Regions from separate parts of the Homo sapiens genome. Here region 2 is linked to region 1. Evidence: fine-mapped expression QTL. Tissue or cell type: skeletal muscle. Region 1 holds a variant in brackets; the other region holds the start of a gene. All regions are shown on one strand. Distances are from middle to middle.

Region 1 (10,458 bases):
CATAAAAGTCGACTGGTGTGAGATGACCCAAGTTTTTGCAATGTACATGTTCATTTTTAGGGGTGGCTTTCCGGAGTCTGTTTTGAGTAAGAAAAGTGGGATCTGGCCAAGCTCTGCCTAGCCCTTGTCAAAGATATCTCATTCACCTTCCTCTGGCCGCAAGGCCCAATGTCTGGGCCCACTCTGGGCTCATATTTCTGTAATAACAAAAACTGTCTTTTATCATGGAAGCAATAACTGAGGGGTGTGTGAGGTTTAAGTAGTTTGACACCAAGGTCAAATGTTGTGTCTGTTTCTTATTTTACACACATGGATTTAACAAATAGGTACAGCTGCCCCTTCCACACCGCCCCAGGATCTGTTCTCAGTGGGAGGACAGCGCGAGGCCTTCTGCGCAAATCCCGTCCTCAGCACCTGAGGCTGTGAATCTCAGACCATTTGCCGAAACACACGTGTGCAAGCGCTCAGTCGCTGCCCCCCAGCCTCATCCTCAGGTTGCTCCTGATACCTCGGCCACAATTGCGTGAGGTCTGGAAGCCAGGGAGCGTTTGTGTTCAGGGCGGGGCGGCATGCAGCCCCCAGCCCTTTCTTCCAACTCCCGAGTGAGGATCACTCAGCCTTGCTTGGACGACAGATGCTCAGAGTTGAGTGGAGCCTTGCCCAGAGCCCAGCGCTCGCGGGCTGTACCCATCCCTGCCAGACCCAGAAAGAGGCCCAGCTGCAGGGAATCAGGGAAGCCCAGGGCTGGGTGGGTGTCGGCCCAGAGCCCAACCACGGGGTGGGGAGGGGGCATCCACAATCCACAGTCTCCGGGGGACGTAACCGCGCCCTGCTGGCTTCAGTACGTTTCAGGAGACGGCAGCGAGGCTACCTTGCATGGTGTGGTGGACGAGCTGGTGCGGTTCCGGCAGAAGGTCCGGCAGTTTGCGCTGGCCATGCCCGAGGCCACGGGGGACGCCCGGCGGCAGCAGCTCCTAGAAAGGCAGCCCCTGCTGGAAGCATGCGACACCCTGCGCCGGGGCCTGACTGCCCACGGCATCAACATCAAGGTGAGTGCCGCACCAAGGTCAGGGACATCACCCCAGGAGCCGGGTAGGTCAACAGGACGTGGGGCCATCAGAGGCCCAGACATCCCCCGTGACCATGCTTTTTTTTTGAGACGGAGTTTCACTCTTGTCACCCAGGCTGGAGTGCAATGGCGTGATCTCGGCTCACCACAACCTCTGCCTCTGCCTCCCAGGTTCAAGCGATTCTCCTGCCTCAGCCTCCTGAGTAGCTAGGATTACAGGCATGCACTCCCATGCTCGGCTGATTTTTTATTTTTAGTAGAGACAGGTTTTCTCCACGTGGGTCAGGCTGGTCTCAAACTCCCGACCTCAGGTGATCCTCCCACCTCAGCCTCCCAAAGTGCCAGGATTACAGGCGTGAGCCACTGCGCCCTGCCCATGCTTCTGAGTAGAGAAACCCACCCCCATAAAAAATGAGGTGGGAGGGCCGTGAGGGAGGGGCCAAGTTGGCTGCAGGGGACGCTGAGCACGGGGACGTGGGTCCTGCTCAGCCCCCGCCACCTCCTGCAGGTGCCTTGAAGCTCCTGGCCTTCTGCTGGAGGTAGTGGGGCCCTTTCTAAGCGCCTGGCAAGCTTTTTAGGACAGGCCGGTGAGGGAACAGGCACCCTGAACCTGATTACGCCTGTCAGCCCCCTGTGCCACATGACGTGGTGTCTGCTCAGAGTTGGACCTCACTCTTCTTCTCCAGGACAGAAGCAGTACAACATCCACGTGGGAACTGCTGGATCAAAGGACAAAAGACCAAAAATCAGCGGGCTGAGGATGGAGCACAGCCATGAACCTGCTCACGACAAGACGCACCCATGCTTCTCAGGGTCAAGGCTTTATGTTAAAGCTTCCTGTCGGGGCTGCTAGGTCAGCATTAAAGTAAGGCAACCAACAGTGTCCCACTGGCGTCTGTTTGTTAGTAACTGAGCCTAAACACTCACTGCGTTCTGTGGCTACAGACTCACCGTCGATTGAGTGAAGTAGTGTCAGACATTCAGTAGCATCCAGCAGCACACGTGCCTGTGCGTGAGACCTGCTGGCCCTGTGCCCAGGGAACAGACAACACAGCCAACAGAAGAGCAGGGACCCCGGGAGGCGGCAGAATGCAGCCTGTTTCCTCCTGAGGGAGGGGCTGGGGATGGGTGAGGTGGGTGGGCCACGCAGCATAGTCTGAAGCAGAGGTGGGACGCCAGCAATGCTAACCCCGGGACACCTCCCCCAGCAAGAACACAATCTTACGTTTTCTCTCTGGTTACAAAAGTAACGTATTCAGCATAGGAAAAATGCAGCTGAGAACCCGTCTGCAGTCCCGCTGCAGTTAACATCCTGGCAGCTGCAGGCCATCTTGGTGGTCATGGTCTGTGCAGAGCAGTGATGGGGTCGAGCTGGGCCTGGGAAAGGTTGGTTCCGGAGGAGTCAGGGCAGCCAGGCTGAAAGCCAGCTGGCGAGCTGTGACAGACAGGATTCCTGAGCGGGAGGTGGCGGCCAGCACACGGCAGGCTGCCTGGGCTACAGGACCGGTGGCCTCCTGAAGCACCCACCTTGCTCCTGATCTCACCCTTCTGTGGTAAGCCCAGCGCCACAGCTGTCAGTGACTCAGCAGGGTGACCCCTCTCCACTCTTCCTGCTCGCAGACCCTGGGCCAGGCCTCTCCCTGTCACACTGGCATCTCTGAATCCCAAGGGCACAGGCAGCAGCGGGACCCGTGACTGGGGATACGGGCTTGCTCATCATTTAACCGTGACCCTGAGGTACAGGTCTCCTGTCTACAGTTCAGAAGTCACTCACCTAGAAAATCACCCTAGTAAAGCTACCCACATAGAAAAAGTCCCCAGAGGGCTCCTTACAATGAGGCATCTCGACAGGGCTGCTCAGTACTGGGGCATTACGGGCCGCCCACCCCCCCACACTTTCCCGTTGCTCTCCTGGTCCAGGGAAGCTCCTGGGAGCGTGTCCGGCTGGAGCGAGTGCGTGAAATACGTGGGTTTGAGAAAGAACATGGAAGCAATGAGCTGCTTGTAAAAAAACCCATTCTCTCCTTTAAGCAAAGGGATGTTTTACTTAGAACAAAAACCAGACGAATAGTTCCTGTGACTGCTGAATTCTATTTCCTAAGGAAAGAAGGGGCTGCCTTGGGCTTATCCTTCAAGGTGCTTTATTGCAGCCACCACGGGAGAGGCGCTGGCGAGGAGGCCAATCTCACACAGACAGGCTTAGATATTCTTATCTCCCTGGCATCTCACACAATGTCCTCACCTAAGAAAGTTGAAAGGTGAGCTTTAGCTGTTTAAGGAAAAAAATACAATACTCAATTTAAATTAACCAGATCTGTCTTTTAATAGTTACCAGAATTTAGATGTTAATTCCCCAGAGGAAAAATGTCCATGGCACAGTTTTTCTGGAAAAGTTCACATGTAGACAGTGAAGCTTCTGAAGTTAGGCGTCAAATTAGTAGTGACAATCTTTTTTTTAATCTTGAAAGTCCCTAGTTTTAAAGAAAGTAGAATCCATCTGGGGCATGTCTGCATCACAGGGTATCACTCAAGAGTCATCATCAGGCCAAAAAGACTCTGAAGGGAACCAGGAGGGTTTGGCCCTTGCTGTGGAAAGATGCTACTGAAAGTATAAGAGAACACCCTAATGCACGCGTCAGGCACGAAACCGTACCATGCCCCGCTAAGACATGGGACCAGAGAACACGTCAACGTCAGGCCGCTCCAGGAAAACCATCCACAAAGACAACAGAAGCTAACCCGAGGTCGACACTGCCATGAAGAGTGTTGGCTGAAACCGCAGTTACCAGTGTCTTTACTGGACGCGAACATCCCTAAGGACACGGCTGTGCTGCTTCCTAAGCATACGTGACCACGATACTGTCTTTCCCCGGGTCTCCTTAGCGCCATCACTGCACCAGGCCCAGCATGCCTCAAGTCCTCCAGAGCCTTCTCCTGAGACAGCACTAGGGGCCACGTCAGACCCCAGGCTGCAGCCCTTCACCGTGCCCGTCCCCGGTCCGGTCTGCCCTGCTGGGGCCGGTGGGTATCATGGGGACCCCTGTGTAGACACGGACACCGGAGAGCGTGGGACAGGAGGCGTCTCAGAGCTCCCCACCCACACACTCAAGGGTCAGCGTCACTCATGTTTCCTTCTGTTCCCATGGTGCCTCCAAAAGGGTTTCCAAACAAAGTCATCATTGATTACCCTGGAGTATGTCAATAAGCCAAACACCAGCAGCCAGATACCACCAAGCTAGTCACCACTTTAAAAGAAGATGAGCTGGAGAACGAAGCAGCCCTCTGATGGACCCAGTCAGTGCAGTCGGGACTCAGGGAGACACCCGGGGACCCCTGCCCAGCTCCCTGCCGGAGGAAAGACTAGGGAAGGGAAGCAGAGGAGGAACGAAGGGCGCCGGCAGAGAGAGTAACAAGTAGAAACTTCGCCGATCTGGGAGCAGGCCGAGAAA[C/T]TCTGTTGAGCTGCTAAAGAATTCTTCATTCTCATGTGATTTTCTTCATTTCTGTCTTCCCAGTTACTACCAAGGAGCTAAGGAAAGTTCAGGAATACTTTGTTTAGTGTCGCCATAACATCTCCAACCATGCATTAAGTTTAACCAAAAGCTGCAATATTCCAGATTCTTAAATTCTCAATGGCAACCAATTTATGCTCAAGTTGAAAATCTGGCAAGCACCGTACGCCTTCAGCACACGCGTGGGTCCGGATTTTCCCATCACACACACGCTCTCCCCCGTCCAAGGTGCCTGTTTACTTCTGGTCTGCGCGGGCTCAGGTTTCAAAGAGCTTGCTGAAGGCGGCCCCCACCTCGGCGATCATGTCGGAGGTGGTGGTGGAGCGACCGTGCTTCTGGAAGGCTTGGTGGTTGCACTGCCTGGTGAGAGAGCAGGCGCCAAACGCGGCCACCAGGAGAGGGCTGGACCTGCGGAGAGGGGGACAGCAGGAGGTGTGGGGAAGTGGGCGTCGTGGTCCGGGGGCCGCAGCTACCCTGGGCTCTGGTTTTGACTCCTGTTTCAATCTCAGGACCCCAAATTGTCAATTTCAAGTCTGATATGCCCCTGAGGAGAAAGCAGGTTTATCACAGCGAAAACCACCATTAACCCTCCACTACTCCCTGGCAGGAGGCACACAGGAAACGTCTATGTACTCGGAGACAGGTCCAGGGCTAGGGCACACAGTGGGCCAGGTGTTCCCGGGGAAAGCCAGGCGGCACAAGCTGCTTAGCCCTGTTTGACTGTGCTCTCAGTGCCCAGGTGCAGAGGGCATCTGAGGTCTGAGAATGGGGATTCCTGCTACCAGGGCTCCATCTCCTGGGGGAGGGGTGGAGGCAACTCGAGTGAACACAGCAGAATGAACAGTAAGACTCCTGCCCACACCCCTACCTCCTCGGCTCTCAAATTCATGTGGACACACCTAGTTTGGGGGATGGTCCCAGACTCTGCCATCCCGGCAATGAGGACACATGAGGCCACTGGATGACAGCCCTGCCCACCCTCCAGAAGCCCGGGTCTGCCACACCTAGCACCTGCAGCCACCACCTTGATGGGCTCACAGAAGAGAAATGGAGATGCTTAGAGGTATGGGAACTGCTTGCATTCATAAAGTTCTCTGACTACAGAACTGGGCCAAGGGCCCTGGTCCTAGAATTCTGCTGTCTCTTAAAGAAAATTCACATCTTTAAGAACAAGTGTCTAAGTAAGCCTTGACCCTGTCTGTTTTCTATCTTAGTATTCTGTGTTACACAGAATAAACCACTCAACTTCCCAGAACAGCGTGCTGCTGGGCCTTGGTTGCACCTCGGAACTCTCTGGAGAGCTCTGAAGACCACCCCTGCCCCAGGCCCCATCCACAGTGAATGATGGACAGGCCCAGGCCCAAGTGTGGGGTGGAAGCTTCTGCCAAGAGGGTTCGTCTGTGCCGAGATCTCTCCAGTGAAGCCTAGAGTTCATTGTCAGTGTTTCCAGGGCTACTTATTCAACGCATGAGCTACTGAAACAGCTTAGAAAAATCAGACGGTTTCAAAGTAGAATAAATGAAGACGTGGCCTTACCCATTTGTTTTCTGTGGTCCAGCAAGGAGCGCCCAGTGTACCAGGACGCCCAGGGAGCCCGACAGGAGGTCCCCTTGCCCTCCACACCTGCGGCTGCTGCCTTCCTGGCTGCACACAAGCACTGCACAGGGCAGAAGTGAGAGCAGGTGTCAGCATGGCCATGTGTGTGAATGTGACAGTAGCCACGGGTGTGGAAGGCCGCACGGCAGGCAGAGCCACACCCTCCAGGAGCAGCCTGAGGCTCCACTCACATCCTGCCTGCTACGGCTCTTCCCTGTTTGTTCCAAGGGTTGGAGGCAGCCTCTGTTTTACAGAAGAGGAAACCAAGACACGCAGTGGTGAGGCTGCCCCAGACCCCGCTGTGTAGCACAGCAGGTTGGTGGAGACACCTGCAGCTCGGAACCGCCTCAGACGAGCCCAAGCAGGCAGCTCTGAGCAGGGCGGCGCCAGCCTCCAGCTCCTCCCACCAGCTCCCAGGGACGGAGCCCTCACCTGCAGCCCACACTCCAGAGTTCACCTTAAACCACAGCTCAACCATACAGGGCAACACCGAGCGAGGCCTCCACCGGCCTCATAACGTCACGTATGCCTGTGTATGGGAATTCTCTATTTCTTTGAAAAATGTTTTGAAAACCAGGTGTTACATTCTCTGAACCTGTTAGACCCAAGAGAGCCTTCCAGTGATTAAAAAACCCTCATCTCAAAGGTGTCAGAGTCCCTCTGAGAACATCTGCTCTGTGTTCCTTGTGCACAGCTGTGTGTGGATGAGTGTGCGAGGGCGTGTGCGAGGCTGTGAGCATGACCATGCATGTGTATAAGTGCGAGTGTGCAAGGGCGTGCGAGGCTGTGAGCACAACTGTGCATGTGTATGAATTGCATGCGTGTGCACATATGTGCATGTGAATGTGAGTGTACAAGTGTGGATGTGCACACACCCGCCCACAGACGCCTCAGTGTTCTACCCTGATTTTGGTACCTAGTCCAGCCCCACAGCTCAGCAGGTGAGCACATTCGCTGCCCATCATCTGTCCAGGCCTGAATGGAGGGGCTTCCATTTTCAGCGCTAACAAGGGCACGGCTCCCCAGATGCCTCGCTGGCGCTGGGCCCGGCCTCTGCCCTGCTCTCACTTGGCTCTTGCTGAAGCCTCCCCAGGCTCCGTGGGAGTGGCCAGTTGAGACTCGCCACACTCAGTGCCTGAGATTCCACTACCAGCATCAGCTTCGGGGCTTTCTGCACTTTCCAGTCATTTTGATAAAAGAGAATGAAATGCAATAAAATACCCAAATAACTGCATGGATGGTGGATGCCACAGGTGAGATGAAGGTGGCAGCTGGAGACGCGGGACCCTGCACTGTGCCCTGCTGTTGCAGGCACCCTCCCGCCAGACTGCTTCTCATAACTGAGGCAAGGGAATTCAACCAACGGGTAAGGCCCACGGCTCGAAAGCCTGCCCTCACCACTGTCACCTCCCCTGGCAAAACAGTGAAAAGTCAAAACATGGACTCTGAAGAAAGTGTGGTTGACGAGCTCATCAGGAATCCCTGTGTGAATGTGTGTGAACACGGGTGTGCACGGGAGAGGTCTTCCAGGGCTCATGCTCGGTGTGGCCATGCTGACTGACCTGGCACTGGCCCATGCACAGAGGGCAGCCGCCACTCACCCTGCTGGCCGTTGGAGAGGATGTCGCGCTCTCCTTTCTGGACCACCGTCACGTTGCCCAGGGCTTGGCTGAGTCTTAGCACAGATCCATGGCTGTCATCGCTGTCCATAGGGCCTCTGAGCTATGACAACACAGGAAGACAGAGAAAAAGCAAAGTCTTCCTCAGACACACGACGACAGATAGCCCTGTCCCATCCGCCATGAGACTCATGCTCTCGTGTCTAAAGGGATCACCCAGGCACCTGTTAAAGGCCATGTAGGTGGGAGGATGCCCAGGATATCACCTGCAGTGAGTCCTCCGAGCAGGTGCTGACACGGTGCCTGCTCCAGTGCCCATCCTCTACCTCATCAGAGCAGGCTGAAGGAGGACCACCCAAGACTGGGTTCTGAGAGCTTTGCAGGAGTAATACAAATTCCAGTCGTACTGGGCACTAACATTGATGGGACACTTACCATGTGGGGACTCACGGCTTTACATAGGTTTCCTCATCTCATCCTCACAACCCCGTGAAGCTGATGCCATCATCACATTACAGATGAGGCACTCAGGACACAGACAAAGTGACCTGTCCAGAGTGCACTGCAGGAGGGGCTGACTGACCCGAGTCCCTGCCTGTCCCAAGCCCACTACACCATCGTTCATCCAATCCAAGCGCATTAATGGGAAGACGCGCCATCCGCTGGGAGAGGCACAGCGATTACTTGCAGGTGTGTCCACAGGGACAGGCTGGGCAGAAGCATGGAGCTCGTCCTTCACCCTCTTCAGGACGAACAGGGCTTGCATCTACCCTCCAGGGGGTCCACTGACTCACCACAGCGTCATACAGTCTGCTGAACTCCACGTGGTTGGGAGTGAGCACAGCCTTCCGGTAGCCATGGATGAGGGCCGGCTGCTGAGCGACCAGCCACAGGCCATCCTGCACAGAACAAGGAGCCGTGCTCACTGCACAGGCCTTCCGGGAGTCCGAGCCAGGAGGAGAGAAGTCAACTCACCGCGTCGATGACAACAGGGATGTCCCTGGCCTTTGACACTTCCAAAATGCCCTGCCAGAAGAGAAAACCAGACTGAGCACCATGCCTGCTGCTATGGTGTGGGTATGTGTCTTCTCAAAACTCATGGTGAAACTTAATTGCCAAGGGAAGGGTCCTGGGAGGTGGGGCCTTTAAAAGGTGATGTGGCAGTGTCCTCATGGGTTGGTTTAATGACCTTTAAAAGAGGCATAAGGGTCTCTCTCCTGCCCTTCTGCCCTCGCCAGATGCCGGCACCTTGATGTTGGACATCCACCTTCAGAACTGTGAGCCAGTAAACGCCTGTTCATTATCAATTACCCAGTCTGTGGTACGGCTACAGCAGCGCAAAACCGACTAAGACACTTTTCCCAAGAGTGACAGAAAATTGAGCAGACTCTTAATAAAATGCAACATCAGGCCATCAAACAATAAATGGAAAATAATCAAGTAAATGAATAAAATAGAGAAGCAGAAAGACCCAATGAACTCGCAGAGCCCGTAAACAAGGCAGGACACTGGGAACTCTGAAAGGCGAAGCCCACTGGAAACGCTATGAACAACAGCTGGGCTCCTAGGCTAACCCATGAAGACAGCCCCCGCCCCAGCAAGGGCATCCAGTTCTCCAACAGATACTAATACGCAGCATTCGGAGGCAGGAAATCTGAATTCCTGAGAATTCCCCAAATCATTAGTCATTATGTATTTTTCATATCACTTTACTTACACGTTTTAAAATAACAACAATAATAAACAGGGAATCATTTTTCCCTGATAGGATTACAGTGAAGGTTTCAAAGGTTTTCTATTAAAAAAAAAAAACTACATGTATAGATACACACACATATATGTAATATTTGGTGGTTTTTATTATTATGAGCCAATACATTGTGACAAGATTATACACTGCAGTAGCATGTAAAGTGATCCTGACTTGACAGACACCTGATAATACAAAACATTAAAATAGAAAACATTAAACAAAATGAGAGGTGACAGCATGCTGGCAGTCCTCAGAGCCCTCGCTTGCTCTCAGCACCTCCTCTGCCTGGGCTCCCACTTTGGCGGCATTTGAGGAGCCCTTCAGCCCACCACTGCACTGTGGGAGCCCCTTTCTGGGCTGGCCAAGGCTGGAGCCCACTCCCTCAGCTTGCAGGGAGGTGTGGAGGGAGAGGCGCGAGCGGGAACTGGGGCTGCCTGCAGCGCTTGCGGGCCAGCTGGAGTTCCGGGTGGGCGTGGGCTTGGCGGGCCCCGCACTCGGAGCAGCCGGCCAGCCCTGCTGGCCCGGGGCAATGAGGGACTTAGCACCCGGGCCAGCGGCTGCAGAGGGTGTACTGGGTCCTGCAGCAGTGCCAGCCCACCGGCACTGTGCTCAATTTCTCACCGGGCCTTAGCTGCCTTCCCGCCGGGCAGGGCTCGGGACCTGCAGCCCGCCATGCCTGAGCCTCCCACCCCCTCCATGGGCTCCTGTGCGGCCCGAGCCTCCCCGACGAGCACCACCCCCTGCTCCACGGCACCCAGTCCCATCGACCACCCAAGGGCTGAGGAATGCGAACGCACGGCGCAGGACTGGCAGGCAGCTCCACCTGCAGCCCTGGTGCGGGATCCACTGGGTGAAGCCAGCTGGGCTCCTGAGTCTGGTGGGGATGTGGAGAGTCTTTATATCTAGCTCAGG
Region 2 (16,348 bases), 22 kb after region 1:
ACATACCACTTTGAGAGCTGAGATTGCTGCAAAATATGGGGCTCCAGTGTACCTAAAAAGAAGGTATTTAGAGTCAAAAACTTCTGAGAATAAGGTAAGCATACCTTGATCAATAAATAGGTTATCAATAAAAAATAGACATAAATAATATAGACATGGTTTATCAATAAATAACAGAGACATGAAGCACACAGCACAAACCCAACACCTAAAAGATGCTCAGCAAATGTTCAATGAACATGAACCAGGTTCGACTAGAAATGTCTTTTTTTTTTTTTTTTTTGAGACAGAGTTTCACTCTTGTTGCCCAGGCTGGAGTGCAATGGCACGATCTTGGCTCATTGCAACCTCCGCCTCCTGGGTTCAAGCGATTCTCCTGCCTCAGCCTCCTGAGTAGCTGGGATTACAGGCATGCGCCACCACACCCGGCTAATTTTGTAGTTTTAGTAGGGACAGGGTTTCTGCATGTTGGTCAGGCTGGTCTCAAACTCCCAACCTCAGGTGATCCGCCCGCCTCGGCCTCTCAAAATGCTAAGATGACGGGCATGAGCCACCGCGCCCAGCCAGAAATGTCGATCTTTTACATAAAACCTTCATGCATTTCAGGAGAGTGAATCTCTGGCAGTAATGCCTGCAGTCTCCCTGCAATGTGAATGTTCAAGGTAAGGAGCTGACCGCAGGCTTCTGCCTGGAGAGAAGAAAGTGACAACCACATGTTCGGAGCAGTCGGGCATGGACAGGGTCCCAGAGTGGGCAGACCCCGTCCTCCAAGAGTCACAGTCAGCAGAGGCCAGATGGGGGCCACCTGGGACAAACAAGAAACGGCACCCACCACCCAGCTGCTTCCGCCTGGCTGTTCTGGAATCCCTGGCTCTCCAGGTCTAAGGGCACTTCAGGCACAGAAAGGAAGAGCCCTGCCCTCCGTCAGATGGGCAAATGCAACCTTTATGTCCATTCCGAGCAGTGAAATGTTTTGCTAACCCAAGAAAGAGAGACCTGGGCAAATGCTGATACCCATCACCTTACATGGCCTTCTCCTGCAAAGCGGTGTCAATAGCGTTGTAAATGCAAAAGACAGTACAGAACAGGCAACATACATGCACACACTCTTCCATCATGTGAAAACAAGCCTCACTAATAAGAGAAATGCATTAAAACAACAAGAAAGCTTGTCGACTTCACTAGCAAAGGTTGTCCTCCAAGGGCTGCAGGGAACAGGTGCTCTTGGGAGGCAACACACACTAACGCAATGGGGGGACAATTCGGCAGCGTCACCAGCATGTAAAATGCACACATACCTGATCCAGTAACAACTCTAACACACCCTATGGCACGATCAACAGCTGCAAATGGAGGGATGGGCAAAGAGAGATACCACATCCATGCAAACAGAAAGCAAGCAGAAACAGAGGAGCCACGGCAGGCTTTCCGTCAGAGGCAGAAGGTATCCTTCACACCCAAGGACAACTTACAAACAGCTACGTACCAAACACAGCAGCAAAACAGAACAGAAGCAAGCTAGGGATTTGTCAAATTTCATAAATGACTTTCAGTAACATCTTTAAATTGACAAAGTAAACCAAGAGGTTGCTGAGTGTTTCTATCCTAAATACAAAAAACATGCTTGTGGTATGAAGTCCAGTTAAATACAGAAAAGCAGAAAGTGGAAAAAACAGGCTCATTTCCCCACTACGACAAAACTTAACACTGACACACATGAGGGAGTAATTCAGTCAGGGCTCCTCAGAGTTATTTCCTAGTTAATCAAAAAGTGGATCACTGAAAAATACTGAGTGTCCTATCAGGCTGCATTTGGAAATGATTACTGAGGTCAAACTAGACAGCGTGAATGACAGTCAGGTAAGCAGCCAGCCAGCAACTGACTTTTTAAACACCAACACTGCACATCAGCTACTTACTCCTGACAGCCTCCAACTACGCCTATTCTTCCATCTTGCCCTTTGTGCTTTGTGGAAGACAGAGGAGGTATGATATTTCTCACCAGCTGCAAAGTATTTTCCATATCCTTTATCGAATGTGCTTTACGTAGCGAAAACGCTCTTTCTAAAACTGAAAGACAAGAAAAATGAATAATTCAGAAAGGTAAACAGATATTGTTAGTACACATAATAGCCCATTAACCAAAACCCTCTCCAAAGTTATTACGAATGCTATAGATTTTTACCCAATGGATTTCTGTAAGCAAATATGATGTTCAAAATTACATTAACACATGCAATTTTTTTTTTCTTTTTTGAGACGAACTCTGACTCTGTCACCCAGGCTGGAGTGCAGTGGCGTGATCTCAGCTCACTGCAACCTCTGCCTCCCAGGTTCAAGCAATTCTCCTGCCTCAGCCTCCTGAGCAGCTGGGATTATAGGTGTCTACTACCACACCTGGCTAATTTTTGTATTTTCAGTAGAGATAGGGTTTCATCATGTTGGCCATGCTGGTCTAGAACTCCTGACCTCAAGTGATCTGCCAGCTGCAGCCTCTCAAAGTGCTGGGATTACAGGCGTGAACCACCATGCCCAGCCTGAACACATGTAATTAACACATATAGTAACACATGCTATTTATTTATTTATTTGAGACAGAGTCTAGCTCTGTCACCCAAGCTGGAGTGCAGTGGCACGATCCTGCTCACTGCAACCTCCACCTCCTGGGTTCAAGCGATTCTCCTGCCTCAGCCTCCGGAGTATCTGGGATTACAGGCACCTGCCACCCTGCCCTGCTAATTTTTGTATTCTTAGTAGAGACAGGGTTTCACCATGTTGGCCAGGCTGGTCTCCAACTCCTTACCTCAAGTGATCTGCCCGCCTCAGCCTCCCAAAGTGCTGGGATTACAGGCATGAGCCACCCCACCAGGACAACATATGCTATTTCTATCAGGTTTATTTTTGAAATGTATCTGAAATTTTGGAAGACCATTTAATTTTCCAGAAAGTTTTATCAAGTAAAAAAATGCATTATTACTTAATAAACTATCACTTCATTTCAATTTCCCTTTAGGATTATTAGGTCTTTTCTCTCCTCACAAACTGGAAAGCAAGCTCCCACCTGTAATCCGCTGGGGTGCTCAGAAGTCTGACAGATTCATCATATTACTCCCAACTGTATTCCAACACTCAACTGGGTATTAATTAAATAACCTAGAAATGGCATTCTAAATATGGCACACCTCTTAAATTGGGTTCAAAGTGGCATTTAATGTATTTTCATCATCTTGAGTTGTCTCTAAACAGCTACACTTCAATTGGCCTTTCTTGAAGAGCTTCCTGTGTTATATATTTTACCTTAATATTTAAAACAGCTCGGCTATGAGAGAAATGCTGGTATGTTCTATAGAGCTCAATGAATAAAGCATACATTCTCCCTAGAATGAAAGGATCTTTGCAAATATAAACAGTATTTTTTCAAACAAGGCACTCAATATTTTTATCCTTCCAATTATCTCAGCAGCAGAGAAAAACCAGTGTCACAAGTTCCACTGACTGCAGTCCAAAGCTCACTGAGCGTTTCACAGCAAAAGAGCTTTGTCTTTTAACTCTTACAGTTTTACTTTTTACTCAACAAAACTTTTGAAGGAATTTTCTTTATGAGTAGATGTAACTGCCTTAGCTGATAGAGCAGATGCTGGGATTCCCCAAGATAAAAAGATCCTATGAATCCCCATCAACCCAAATTCTTTTTTTTTTTTTTTTTTGAGACAGAGTCTCACTCTGTCGCCAGGCTGGAGTGCAGTGGTACAATCTCGGCTCACTGCAACCTACGACCCCCTGGTCCAAGCAATTCTCCTGCGTCAGCCTCCTGAGTAGCTGGGACTACAGGCGCATGCCACCACGCCCAGCTAATTTTTGTATTTTTAGCAGAGACGGGGTTTCACCATGTTGGCCAGGGTGGTCTCGATCTCCTGACCTTGTGATCTGCCCACCTCGGCCTCCCAAAGTGCTAGGATTACAGGTGTGAGCCACCGCGCTCAGCCCAACCCCAAATCTTTTCACCTTCTTCCAGACCAACACACAAGACCCGGCACAGAATCACTATAAACTGTGGGCCAAGGAGAGACACAATGAAGCTTGCTGAGCTACCTGCAGGGGACCAATGCACCCATCCTTGAAATCCCTCCAGGAGGGCTAAATTATGGTTTTAAAACAATACACTTGTCTAGAAGAGACATTTATGGGGCCAGGCGCAGTGGCTCCCCGCTGTAATCTCAGCACTTTGGGAGGCCAAGGTGGGTGGATCACTTGAGGTCAGGAGTTCGAGACCAGCCTGGCCAACATAGTGAAACCCCATCTCTACTAAAAATACAAAAATTAGTTGGGCACGGTGGTGCATGCCTGTAATTCCAGCTACTCGGGAGGCTGAGGCAGAAGAACTGTTTGAACCCAGAAGGTGGAGGCTGCAGTGAGCCAAGATTATGCCACTGCACTCCAGCCTGGGTGACACAGCGAGACTCTTGTCTCAAAAAAAAAGACATTTATGGGTATCGATCAGCATCCTGTCTTTGTCGTGGGGAGCTGTTCTATGCACTGAAGGATGCTGAGCAGCATCCCCGGCTTCTACCCAGTCAGCAGTGCATGTACACGCACCCAGTGGTGACAACCAGCAATATCTCAACACTCCCAAATGTCTTCTGGATGGGGCAAAATGAGCCTGGGTTAAGAACCACTAGTAGAGATGCATGCGTGTAGTTTTAGCACCTTTAAATATACCAGTACTTCAAATTAAATATTTAAGGTCATATAAAATATAAATTGTGACTTATGAAATCACAGAGAAAAACAATTTAGTCAGACTTCAACTTACGGATGTTAAAAATCAACATTTATATCAATGTACCCTGCCTGATGAAAACAACTCCTAAATGGTAATACTTCATAAATGTGTATTTCTCACAATAAGAAAAGGAATAAAATGGTTCCACCAGATAATACTGTATATTTTCCAGGAGGCTTCTTTCTCCCAATATCCAAGATTCATATCTTACAAACATCTGTATCTTAAATTTCAGATTTAAGTCTTAAAAAAAGTACTATAGGTGAGGTATGAAATATTTAATGTTTATATCAAAAAGGGCAAATACCATAAACCCACACTGAACTACCCATTTGCACTTTGCCTCATAGTTGAAATAACCTATACATTACCGGAAAGGATCTGACACAAAATTAAGCTGCAGCCACGAGTCCAGGTGGAGCACCTGTCAGGTGGAGGGGAGCACCAATGCCCCTCTGCAACCAGTGTCGCCCAGCACTCCCAGGAGGGCACAGCAGGGCCGCCTCGGGGTCACAACTGCAGCACCAGAGCTCCCAGGGATGCTGTGTTCCAAGTGCTTGTCCTCTCCGCATCTGCTCCCCAGAGCGGAAAAGCTTCCCTTCTGCGTCACACTCTGCTGAAAGTCCTCCCAGTACTTTTGGTACTGGGATAGCACCTTTCTGATCTTTTTGGTTGAGAAAGAGGAGATATGCTAGTCCAGGCAAGGATACGCTTAAAACCTACAGGCTTTAAAGCTAATACTGATTTTTGTTGTTATTCAAATAATGACAAGAACACATACAATTTTTCCTGCACTTCAAGGTAAGCTTTGTTAAAATGATAAGATATCAGGGGGCTCAAACATCGAATACAATATACGAATAAGGGCCACTTTCTAAGGCGGATTTTTCTACAGCAGGTTAAGCATTAAAGTCCCATTTACCACAAGCCAAAAATATCAATTCTGAGTGTGTAAAACCCACTGCATTCACACGGCAATCTTTATCATAGCTAGGAAGAAAACACGGGGGGAATCCTGTTCTGAGCTATTCCTTTATCTTATACAGAAGGTAGTGTTTTGAAGCCCAAAATGTGCAAACCACCTTCACAGCAACTTGATCAACCCACCAGCGGGAGTCGCCTCCTCCTGCTCCTGTTCCGTTGTGAAATCTTAAGACTTTGTGAGATTCCCAGTTCCCTGGCCATGATGCTACCGTAAGGGCTGGGTCTAAGAACCCTGGAGAACAAGAAGCGCCATCCAGAAACTGAATATTTCAAGATTTACACATGAGAACAACGGCTCTCAAATGGAAGCTAGCTTAAAATTATGTTAAACTCATAATATAATTAATAGTAACTTTTTTGCTACATAATTTTAAAAATTCAAAGTGATACCAAAAGTAACTATTATTACATGTGGGGTTCTGAAACCTTTCGAGCACACAGACAACCTACATGGTAGGGGCTGACCTGGACATAAGAAGGAAGTTCTTATGTCTGGACTGGCAGAGAATCAGCACCCTACTACTGCCTGCCCACGAGGAATGTGGCACCATCCGCAAGCTGCAGCACTGACTGCTTCCATGTGGGACTCAATCACCTCGAACACAGCCTGGCACAGAACAAGACACTTGATACATGTTCGATGAAGTCAAGACATCGTGATTCACTCTCCTCACTAGCACTTTATCTTTCTTTTACAGATAAGGAAACTGGGGCCCAGAGAGAAACCTGTGCAGATGCTGTGGTTAGTAATGGACAAGCCAGGCCACAAGACACTATTTTACCAAAGTGCTGCCATGTTTTTGTTTTTATTTTTGTGGGCACACAGTAGGTGTAAAATGCTGCCATTTTAAGGCAAAATAAGAAGTATAGCATTTTCACTTGAATAGAATTGTATTAACACAAAGTAAAATCCAGGCTGCTCACCAGCATTCACCTAAGATAAACAGCTTCTGTTAGCAAAAGGGCCAAAGCAGGTCAACTAAACTTCCCAGCACTTGGCAGTGAAGCAAGTTCCAGCTGGCTTACTGACGTCACCATTTGAACTTAACATTTCAAATGTTAACACAGAAACATTTACATATAAAGATCAAAGTTCTGAAGGATAAAAAGGCCTTGACAATAGGCGACTTAAGATGTATCCCATTCGGTAACTCTTCAGACAATTCTGAGTCTGGAAGAACAGGTTAAATTTGTTTGGCTTTTGTTTTAAGGAAGCGTGTCTGGGGAAGACTATCACTGCTGCTTTGTGCTAAAAGTGCTTTTAGTACTGGAAAATTCTACTTAAAAAAACAAAAATACTTTAAGTTAATGTGAGTTATAACTAATTTAGAGCATTTAACCACAATCCCTAAGTTAACTGAAATATTTCCTAAAGCCTCAGTAATATACAACTCTACCTGGCTTTTCGTAAAAGTTTAGGCAGTCTGATAATAAATCCTCAACCAAGCGCAATGAAAAATCTTGCTACTAATCACGGTGTGTGAATTTAAGGTAAAGAGCTACAAATAAATCTCTAAATAAAGTGTTAAGAAGCCTCCCTGCTGGTGTGAGTGAGGTGCAGTGTAGAGTACCCTCTCAGCGCCACCCAGTGCATTCTCAGTGTGTGCTGATGAAAACAAAAAGCCAAACTCTCTGACGATGCCCAACATACACACAAGGTAAAATCTATCTAATGACTACAGCAACAAATGGTGCGTTTAACCATTTCGGCCACTCACTGGCTGGAGAATCCTGGCTAAGTCACTTTCTCTGAGCTTCTATTTATCTTCTATACCAAGGTGGATAACAGCAATCTCTCCTTATGAGAAATGAGATATACACGAACTACTTCCTGTATAAAATATGTTAGATACACCAATACCAACAAGGCAAACAGAAAGACAAAAAAACCCTATGAAGAGATGGGGCTCCAAGCACTTGCTCAGCTCCTGTTTAAATTCTTTCTACCTTATCCGTTCTATTTGAAAAGGCATCTCAGCGTGCAAGGACCAGCCAAGGCCAGGGCAGGGCCCTCGGGGACATCTGGCCAGCACTTCAGGTTCTGGGGATGACTCAGGTGAGCCTCCCTCCCCAAGGGACCTCCTACACGCACACACACACCCCGAACCGGGGGCGGGCGAAGGAGGCCTGGCTGGTGGAGTCCTTTTCTGCGGCCCAGGCGTCGCAATATCCAGTCCCTCTCGTCCAAGGACGTGCAGGGTCTGTACTTGCCCAGTCGCACTGGGACTTCAAATTGGGGATGCAGACACGGCCCTGCTCCTGGTGTGCGCGAAGCCCGCTCAGCCGGCCAGCTCGCCTGCACGCCCGCCGCGTCCCTGGGCCCCAGGAGGGCCCCCGTATCCAGCTCCGACCAAACAGCAAGCCCGCAGTTGGCGAGCATCTTTCCCAGACCGGGAGCGGGGACAGAGCAGAGCAGACGGATCCGACCAGCGCACCACGGCGCCCCAGGGCCCTCCTACCGTCCTCGGCCCTCGGCCCCCCGTTCCCCGGCCACCGCGCGGGCTCCGCCGCTCCTGGGACGCGCACTGGCTCCGGCCCGGCGCCACCCTCTGCCCCTCTGTCACCCCGCACGGAGGCTCCCATCACCCAAGCCGCGCCCAGCCGTCGCCGCGCCGTTCCAGGAGGCCTCCGTCCTCTCCCTACTCCGCCCCGCAGGCCACACGGCGCCCCGGCCCCGCGCGCGGGCTGCCCCTCGGCGGCGCTTCCCCCCCGCGAGCCAGCAGAGGCGGTCAGCGGTCGGGTACCTGCGTCCAGTGGCGGCCCGTACAGCGCGAGTGCGGCCGAGAGCAATGCGACAACGACCGCGCCGGCGACGGCAGTTCCGGCCCCCGCGCGTGTGACCATCCCCGGGCCAAATGGAATCGACCTTACCTCGTCTGCAAGCCCGGATTGCCCCACAGCGAGGACCCAGGGCCATCGGGCAGCATTCCGGATTCCCAGCTGCCCCCGCGCCGTCGCCGGAAACACAGCCATTGGAAGCGTTTTCCGGTTTCCCGACCGCCTCCGCGCGGCTGTCGGCAGTGGGATCCCAACTCGCTCAATCACACCCGGTTCTAGATGATTGACAAGCGCGACGCCCAACCCGGCCTGGTCCCAGCTCTGGCCTAAGAGGTTCGGCTGGAAGGCAGGTTGAAGAGTTAACAACGATCTGGTTCAGGGTCTGGTTTGTGTTTATCGGCCCATTTTTAGGCTTGCGGCGTTATAGAAAATGATTTTGCTGGCAGGTGGAGTGCCGAGGCCCACTATGTGCCCCCAGTATAGCAGTCAGGTGCCTTTCTGCTCCAGGCGCAACCTCTGCCCTGAACCCCAAACCAGCTCGCTGCGAGGCCCCTTCGCTTTCCACCGTCTCAGGTCAGGGCAGCTCCATCACTCCAACGCTGAGGCCCAAACCCCTGGAAGGCATTCTGACCTCTCCTGCCCTCCCACCCACGCTCCTCCTGTGGCTGATGGCCTCTTACCTCCACTGCCGCCCTATTTGAAGCCACCGTCATGGTGCTAAAAGAAACTTGTGGGGCCAGGTGCGGTGGCTCGCGCGTGTGATCCCAATGCTTTGGGAGGCCAAGATGGAAGGATCGTTTGAGCCCAGGAGTTTGAGACCAGCCTGGACAACATAAGGAGACCCCCTTCTCTACCAAAATTTTTTTGGAAAATTAGCAGGGGATGGTGTGGCACACCTGTAGTCCAGCTACTTGAGAGGCTGAGGTGAAAGGATGGCTCAACATGTCAGAGGCCTTTTAACCAGAGCGATTCCATCTTGAATAGGGACTGGGTAAAATGAGGGTGAGACCTACTGGGCTGCATTCCCAGGGGGTTAGACATTCTTGGCCACAGGATGAGGTGGTGGGCACAAGATACAGGTCACAAAGACCGCACTGATAAGATGACACAGTAAAGAAACTGGCCCAAAGCCTACCAAAACCAAGATGGCCACAAAAGTGACCTCTGTGTCCTCATTGCTCATTATTTGCTGATTATAACGTATTAGCATGCTAAAGGACACTCCTACCAGCGCCATGAGAGTTTACAAATGCTATGGCAACATCAGGAAATTACTCTATATGGTCTAAAAAGGGGAGGAACCCTCAGTTCCAGCAATTGCCAACCTCTTTCCCAGAAAACTCATGAATAATCCCCTCCTTATTTAGCCTATAATCAAGAGATAACTATAACTATGTGTGGAGTTAGTTCCTGCCGGTGGGTTCATGGTCTCACTGACTTCAAGAATGAAGCTGCGGACCTTCACAGTGTTACAGCTCTTAAAGGTGGCATAGACCCAAAGAGTGAGCAGCAGCAAGATTTATTATGAAGAGGCCGGGCGTGGTGGCTCATGCCTGTAAGCCCAGCACTTTGGGAGGCCGAGGCGGGTGGATCACAAGGTCAGGAGATCGAGACCATCTTGGCTAACACGGTGAAACCCTGTCTCTACTAAAAATACAAAAAATTAGCCGGACATGGTGGCGGGCGCCTGTAATCCCAGCTACCCAGGAGGCTGAGGCAGGAGAATGGCGTGAACCTGGGAGGCAGAGCTTCCAGTGAGCCGAGATCGGGCCACTGCACTCCAGCCTGGGCCACAGAGCGAGACTCCACCTCAAAAAAAAAAAAAAAAAGATTCATTATGAAGAGCAAAAGAACAAAGCTTCCACAGCATGGAAGGGGACCCAAGTGGATTGCTGCTGCTGGCTGGCGGGGGTGGGGGGGTGGGGCAGCTTTTATTCCCTTATTTCTCCCCTCCCATGTTCTGTTTCTGCCCTATCGGAATGCCCTTTTTTCAATCTTTCCTGCAATTGGCTACTTTTAGGATCCTGCTGATTGGTGCGTTTTACAGAGCACTGATTGGTGCATTTTACAATCCTCTTGCTAGCTACAGAGCGCTCATTGGTGCATTTTACAATCCTAGCTACAGAGTGCTGATTGGTGCATTTTACAATCCTCTTGTAAGACAGAAAAGTTCTCCAAGTCCCCACTCGACCCAGGAAGTCCAGCTGGCTTCAAGTCTCATAAGTATATTCAGTCAAGCAGCCAGTGCCACTGCTCTGCCTATGGAGTAGCCATTCTTTTATTCCCTTTCTTAATAAGTTTGCTTTCAATTTATGGACTCGCCCAGAATTCTTTCTTGCACAAGGTCCAAGAACCCTCTTGAGGTCTGGATTGGAACCCCTTTCTGATAACAGAGTGAAACCCTGAACTACACCTACCAGACCAAACCAGTAAGGAGTTTAACTACAGTAACTGAGCTTTACTTCATGGCAGGAAACTCTGTAACCAGTTAAGCAATGAAGTTATAATCAAATTAGCTGTCTCCATCACACACTTCTGTTTCCTATAGGTGCTGTCAGATCAGGTTCCTGATTGGAGTTCTCTTATCTGCTCTGGTTTGGAGGGCTGCCCCATTCGGGAATCTGTTTTGTTTTGCTCAAATACACTCAGTTAAAACATACACGTGTCTAAGGTTTTTCCATTTAACAGTGTGTGGCCTGGATGATGGCAATAGTCTGCTGCATGAGTGTCAATGAAAAGAGTCAAACTCTAAAATATTCGAGATTTATTCTGATCCAAAGATGAGTGACCATGGCTTGTAACATAGCCCCTGCAGATCCTGAGAACATGTGCCCAGGGTAGTCGGGCTAAGCTTGGTTTTATACATGGTAGGGATACGGAAGACATCAATCAGTACATGTAAGAAGTACGTTGGTTCAGCCCAGAAAGGTGGGACAACTCCAAGAGAGGAGCTTCCAGTCATAGGTGGATTCAAAGATTTTCTGATTGGCAATTGGTAGAAAGTTTACTTAAAGACTTGGAATCAGTAGAAGGAAGTGTCTGGGTTAAGATAAGGGGTTGTGCAGATGAGGCCTCCAGGTAGCAGGCTTCAAAGAGAATGAATTGTAGATGTTTCTTTTTGTTGTTGTTGTTGTTTGAGACAGAGTCTCACTCTGTTGCCCAGGCTGGAGTCCAATGGCACAATCTTGGCCCACTGCAACCTCTGCCCCCCAGGTTCAAGCGATCCACCCTACTCAGCCTCCCAAGTAGCTGGAACTACAGGCGTGCACCACCACACCCGGCCAATTTTTGTATTTTTAGTAAAGACAGGGTTTCACTGTGTTGGCCAGGCTGGTCTCCAACTCCTGACCTCAAGTGATCCTCTGCCTTAGACTCCCAAAGTGCTGGCATTACAGGTGTGGCCCACCTCACCTGGACTTTGTAAATGTTTCTTATCAAACTTCAGGTGCCGGACTCTTAGTAAATTATCTCCTGGATCAAGAAAAAGACCTGGAAAAGGAAGGGGAGTCTCCTCAGAATGTAGATGTTTTTCCCCAAAGAGACAGTTTTGCAAGGCTATTTCAAAATATGCCAAATGAATATATTTGGGGTAAAATACTCCAGTTTCTTTCAGGGCTTGCAATCTGTCACATTGGTATCTTATTGCTACAAAAATTCTGCTTTGTCAGTCTTAAGGTCTCTGTTTTAACGTTAATGCTGGTCAACTGTGCCTGAATTCCAAAGGGAGGAGGGTATAATGAGGCATCCATCCCCCCTTTCCATCTCGGCCTGAACGAGTGTTTCAGGTTTACTGTAAAATGCCCTTGGCACCCTCCCCAGCCTCTGCCTCTGTCATCACATGATGGTCTCCTTGTCCTCACGTGGGATTTTCCTCTCCTTTAAGGACACCAGTCATATTGGAGTAGGGCCCACCCTAATGATCTCATCTCATCTTAATTCAATAATCTATAAAGACCTCACTTCCAGTTACGGTTATAGTCACAGGTACTAGGGGTTAGGATTTAACATATTCTGAGGAGACACAACTCAACCCATAATACCTTCTGTTAATAAATTAACCTCCCTGCTTTCCTACAGCAATAGAATGATCTTTCCTATAAGTCAGATCATGTCACTCCTCTGCATAGAACCATCCAACTGTTTTCCATGACACTCAGATTAAAATTAAGGTGCATTCCATCACTCTCCGACCCCTATGTGATTGGCGCCCCCAATCACCTACAGCTGTCGGAGGTCTCCGGAGGGTCTCTGGATGCCACTGAGACCCCAGCCCCAGCCAGTTTCCAAGTTCTTGACACCAGCATGAGAAAGAATTCAGGGACACGTCAGAATGAAACGAAAGGCAAGAAGCTTTTACTGCAAAGCGAAAGCACACACGTAAAAGAGAATTGCGGGCGTGCTCAGCAGAGTGAGTCACATCAGAGTTTGAGTTTCTAATTTTATGGATTTTTTTTTAATTAGGGGGTGGAATAATCATAAGGTATTCTGGAAAAGGAGTGATTTCAGGGACTCCCTCCCCCCATTACCACAGACTTTTACCCTTATTCAAGTTTTCCCAGGATCATGGACATATCACCCTGACCAGGATTTGACCATTTTCTCTTCCTTATTTTGGGTTTTCTGTTAACCTGCGGTTTCTTTGCCTCGTTCTTATTCTAGCTGTTGTTTGGGTTTTTCCATCCTCCTGTGACCACCCAGTGCTATTCCCATTTCATTTTCCCCCTTGGAGATTTCCATCCCTTCTTCTTTTATTTATTTTCTTTCTTTCTTTTTTTGAGACAGGGTCTCACTCTGTTACCCAGGCTGGGATGCAGTGGCATAATCATGGCTCACTGCAGCCTCCCCTTCCCAGGCTCCAGCGATCCTCAGACTTCAGCTTCCTGAGTATCTGGGACCACAGGTGTGTGCTACCACGCCCGGCTAATTTTTGTATTTTTGGTAGAGATGGGTTTTTGCCATGTTGTGCAGGGTGGTCTCAAACTCTTGAGCTCAAGCGATCTGCCTACCTTGGCCTCCCAAAGTGCTGGGATTACAGGCATGAGCCACCTACCGTGCTCAGCCATTCCATCCCTTATTCTTGAGGGAGATGAGGGAGGAGGTCAGTCTTCCGTGTCATCTTCCTGCTGATTTAAGAGCACTGGCCCTGCCTACCGAGGGCATGGGAATCTCCAGCTGCTTGATCTAAGGGTCCCCAGGGGACAGCAGGAGCGTCTGATTCCAAGACAGGAAGCAGCTGGAACCCTAGCTTGAAGATCACCTTTACCTAGATCTGCTGTAACCAGAGACAGGCACTTTACAAGCAAGTTGAATATGCATGGGCCAAATATTAACGATGAGCTCACCCTTAACGGGCCCAAAAGTGGTAAAAACCAGGTACTAGAAGGTACAGCAGCTTTAACAGCATCCCACATAAAATCAGCAGGAGGGTTTTTCTTTTCGAGGGTGCAAAGGCATTTTGCCTGGTCATTTGTGCCTGAATTCCAAGGCATGGGGGAAAGTGGAGTGAGGCGTGTCTGACCCCCAGCTTTCCATCATGGCCTGAACTAGTTTTTCAGGTTTTTTTTTTTTTTTTAATTGGATCCCCTTTGGGCAAGAGGCGTGTCCATTCTACTAGGGAGGATGCAGATTTTTTTTAGTTTATAGTCCGCTTTTTGTAAAGGTATGCCAGAGGCAGTGTCAATGGCCAAGCTTTTATTTTGTCCCATATTGATGCCGGGGGGGGGGGGGGGGGGGGGGGGTGCTACCTGTGCCAGGTCTATCATGTCCCTCAGTGGGACCCCTACGGCTAAGGGACTTAGAGTCAAAAGACTTATAACCAATTAATTATTCTAAGCCAAATGGAATGGAAGTGCGCAGGCACTCATTAACCTTCGAATCTCTTTTAAGCAACATAAGAACCAAAAACCAAAAGCCAAAAGACAAGGTAACATAATTGACTTATTTATAAATTATGTGCATTGAGCCACCATAATCTGGTTTGTAGCAATTAGCTATACAAAACACAAGCATTTTGTTAAGCTGCTGAGGCATCTCTGTGACCATTAATGACTGAATCCATTAATTCAGTTGGAGGATCTGAATTAATTTTATTCCTCAGAATTGGCCCTTACAATCTTATGCTGGGCCTGGAGGGATTGTATAGTTCAAATTCTGGAGGCACAACAAACGCAAGGAGCTAAAAACATTTTAAACAAAAAGGTCACAAGCCCTGCCTAGTTTTGCAAATGATAGAAAAAAAATTAAACCTTTAAATTATTTAGTATCTAGGCATAGAATAAATATTACATTATTTCAAATAAAGGCAAAATTATTAAATGAACCTTTTTTTTTGAGACGGAGTCTCGCTCTGTCGCCCAGGCTGGAGTGCAGTGGCGCGATCTCGGCTCACTGCAAGCTCCGCCTCCCGGGTTCACGCCATTCTCCTGCCTCAGCCTCCCGAGTAGCGCCCGCCACCACGCCCGGCTAATTTTTTGTATTTTTAGTAGAGACGGGGTTTCACCTTGTTAGCCAGGATGGTCTCGATCTCCTGACCTCGTGGATCCACCCACCTCGGCCTCCCAAAGTGCTGGGATTACAGGCGTGAGCCACTGCGCCCAGCCTAAATGAACCTTAATGTATTTGAATACAGGCCTGTCCCTGTGTTTCATGAAAGCAGTTTACTTTGAGTGTCACCTTTGCCCAGGTCTAAAGATGAGGCTTTGGTCATCTTGAGTTTGGTGTCAGTTTCTGGTAGGAGTCAGTGCGTTCTTCAGATGCGACATGTGTACCCAGGAGTCAAGGCCCTGCAACTTAACAGCACGAAAATTAGTTAATAGACCCCGATAAGGACTCCCTCAAGGGGCTAAGGGAGTTCTTCAGCTGATTTGCTTCCAGTAAATGTAATTATCAGGCCAGAGGTGGTGATAGTGGAGTTCATGGTCTGACTGGAAGCTGTAAAAATGTTCACAGCCGGACGAGGTGGCTCGCGCCTGTAATCCCAGCACTTTGGGAGGCCGAGGCGGACGGATCTCTAGGTCAGGAGTTCGAGACCAGCCCGGCCAACATGGTGAAACCCCGTCTCTACTAAAAATACAAAAAATTAGCTGGAACGTGGTGGCACGTGTCTGTAATCCCAGCTACTCGGGAGGCTGAGGCAGGAGAATCACTTGAACCCGGGAGCCGGAGGTTGCAATGAGCCGGGATCTCGCCATTGCACTCCAGGCTGGGTGACAGGGCGAGACTCCGTCTCAAAAAAAAAAAAAAGTTCTACAACCTTGCAGCAATTAATTTTTATAGATTTAATAAGCCCCAGCAATAAGACACCTCAGAGACTTAATTTAGGATTTTGATTTTGAGGACGTTTATTAAAGATGTTAAAAGGCTCAAAACATCTGATCCAAACAGAAGCACAGGTCATTGTAAAATAATAGTTACTTACTTAACAAAAGTGATAATCAAAAGACTTTAAAGGCAATACAGAAGGTAATACGGATGTAAAAACCTTGACCCTTTTACATTTCAGATTTTGCAATCAAAAACCTAATAAAGACAGCATGAGAATTATAAAATCTTGTCTCTTAAGCCAGTTACCAAAAAAGCAAAGAAAAATCTGCAGTGACTGCTTCTCCTTATGAGAAGCCCACTTAGATAACCTGGAAGTCAAGTTTGATGAAAAAGTACTGGAATTTAATCAGACACAGGAAGAGTGTGTTCAAGGTTATGAGCATACCACGGGAATACATGACTCTTAGGAACAGCATGAGAAGTTTCTTGATTACACTGAAAATTTAGACATATCAAAAAAAGCCTAGAGTACAGAACGGA

Evidence for each region.
Region 2: NAXD starts here. The variant in region 1 is fine-mapped to the expression of NAXD in skeletal muscle (GTEx, PIP above 0.99).

What each region holds. Positions count from the first base shown.
Region 1 is chr13:110,632,906-110,643,363 of GRCh38, reverse strand. It overlaps NAXD (NAD(P)HX dehydratase), which reads right to left. Exons shown (of 10, transcript NM_001242882.2): 6 at 8,769-8,819; 7 at 8,588-8,692; 8 at 7,776-7,896; 9 at 6,115-6,235; 10 at 3,368-4,986. The coding sequence ends at 4,836. It overlaps CARS2 (cysteinyl-tRNA synthetase 2, mitochondrial), which reads left to right. Exons shown (of 15, transcript NM_024537.4): 14 at 843-1,049; 15 at 1,756-1,947. The coding sequence ends at 1,827. Among named protein-coding and RNA genes, the nearest start is that of NAXD-AS1, 22 kb to the right of the region's middle. RefSeq lists enhancers at 5,824-6,652, 7,483-8,311, 8,312-9,141, 10,136-10,458. The variant C/T (reference allele first, on the strand shown) is at 4,519.
Region 2 is chr13:110,607,938-110,624,285 of GRCh38, reverse strand. It overlaps NAXD (NAD(P)HX dehydratase), which reads right to left and starts at 8,741. Exons shown (of 10, transcript NM_001242882.2): 1 at 8,639-8,741; 2 at 1,920-2,070; 3 at 7-52. The coding sequence starts at 8,684. NAXD-AS1 (NAXD antisense RNA 1) reads left to right here and starts at 7,933. Exons shown (of 1, transcript NR_182301.1): 1 at 7,933-11,204. RefSeq lists enhancers at 7,712-7,761, 7,782-7,831, 8,733-9,660, 12,972-13,472, 13,473-13,973 and silencers at 8,112-8,271, 8,282-8,531.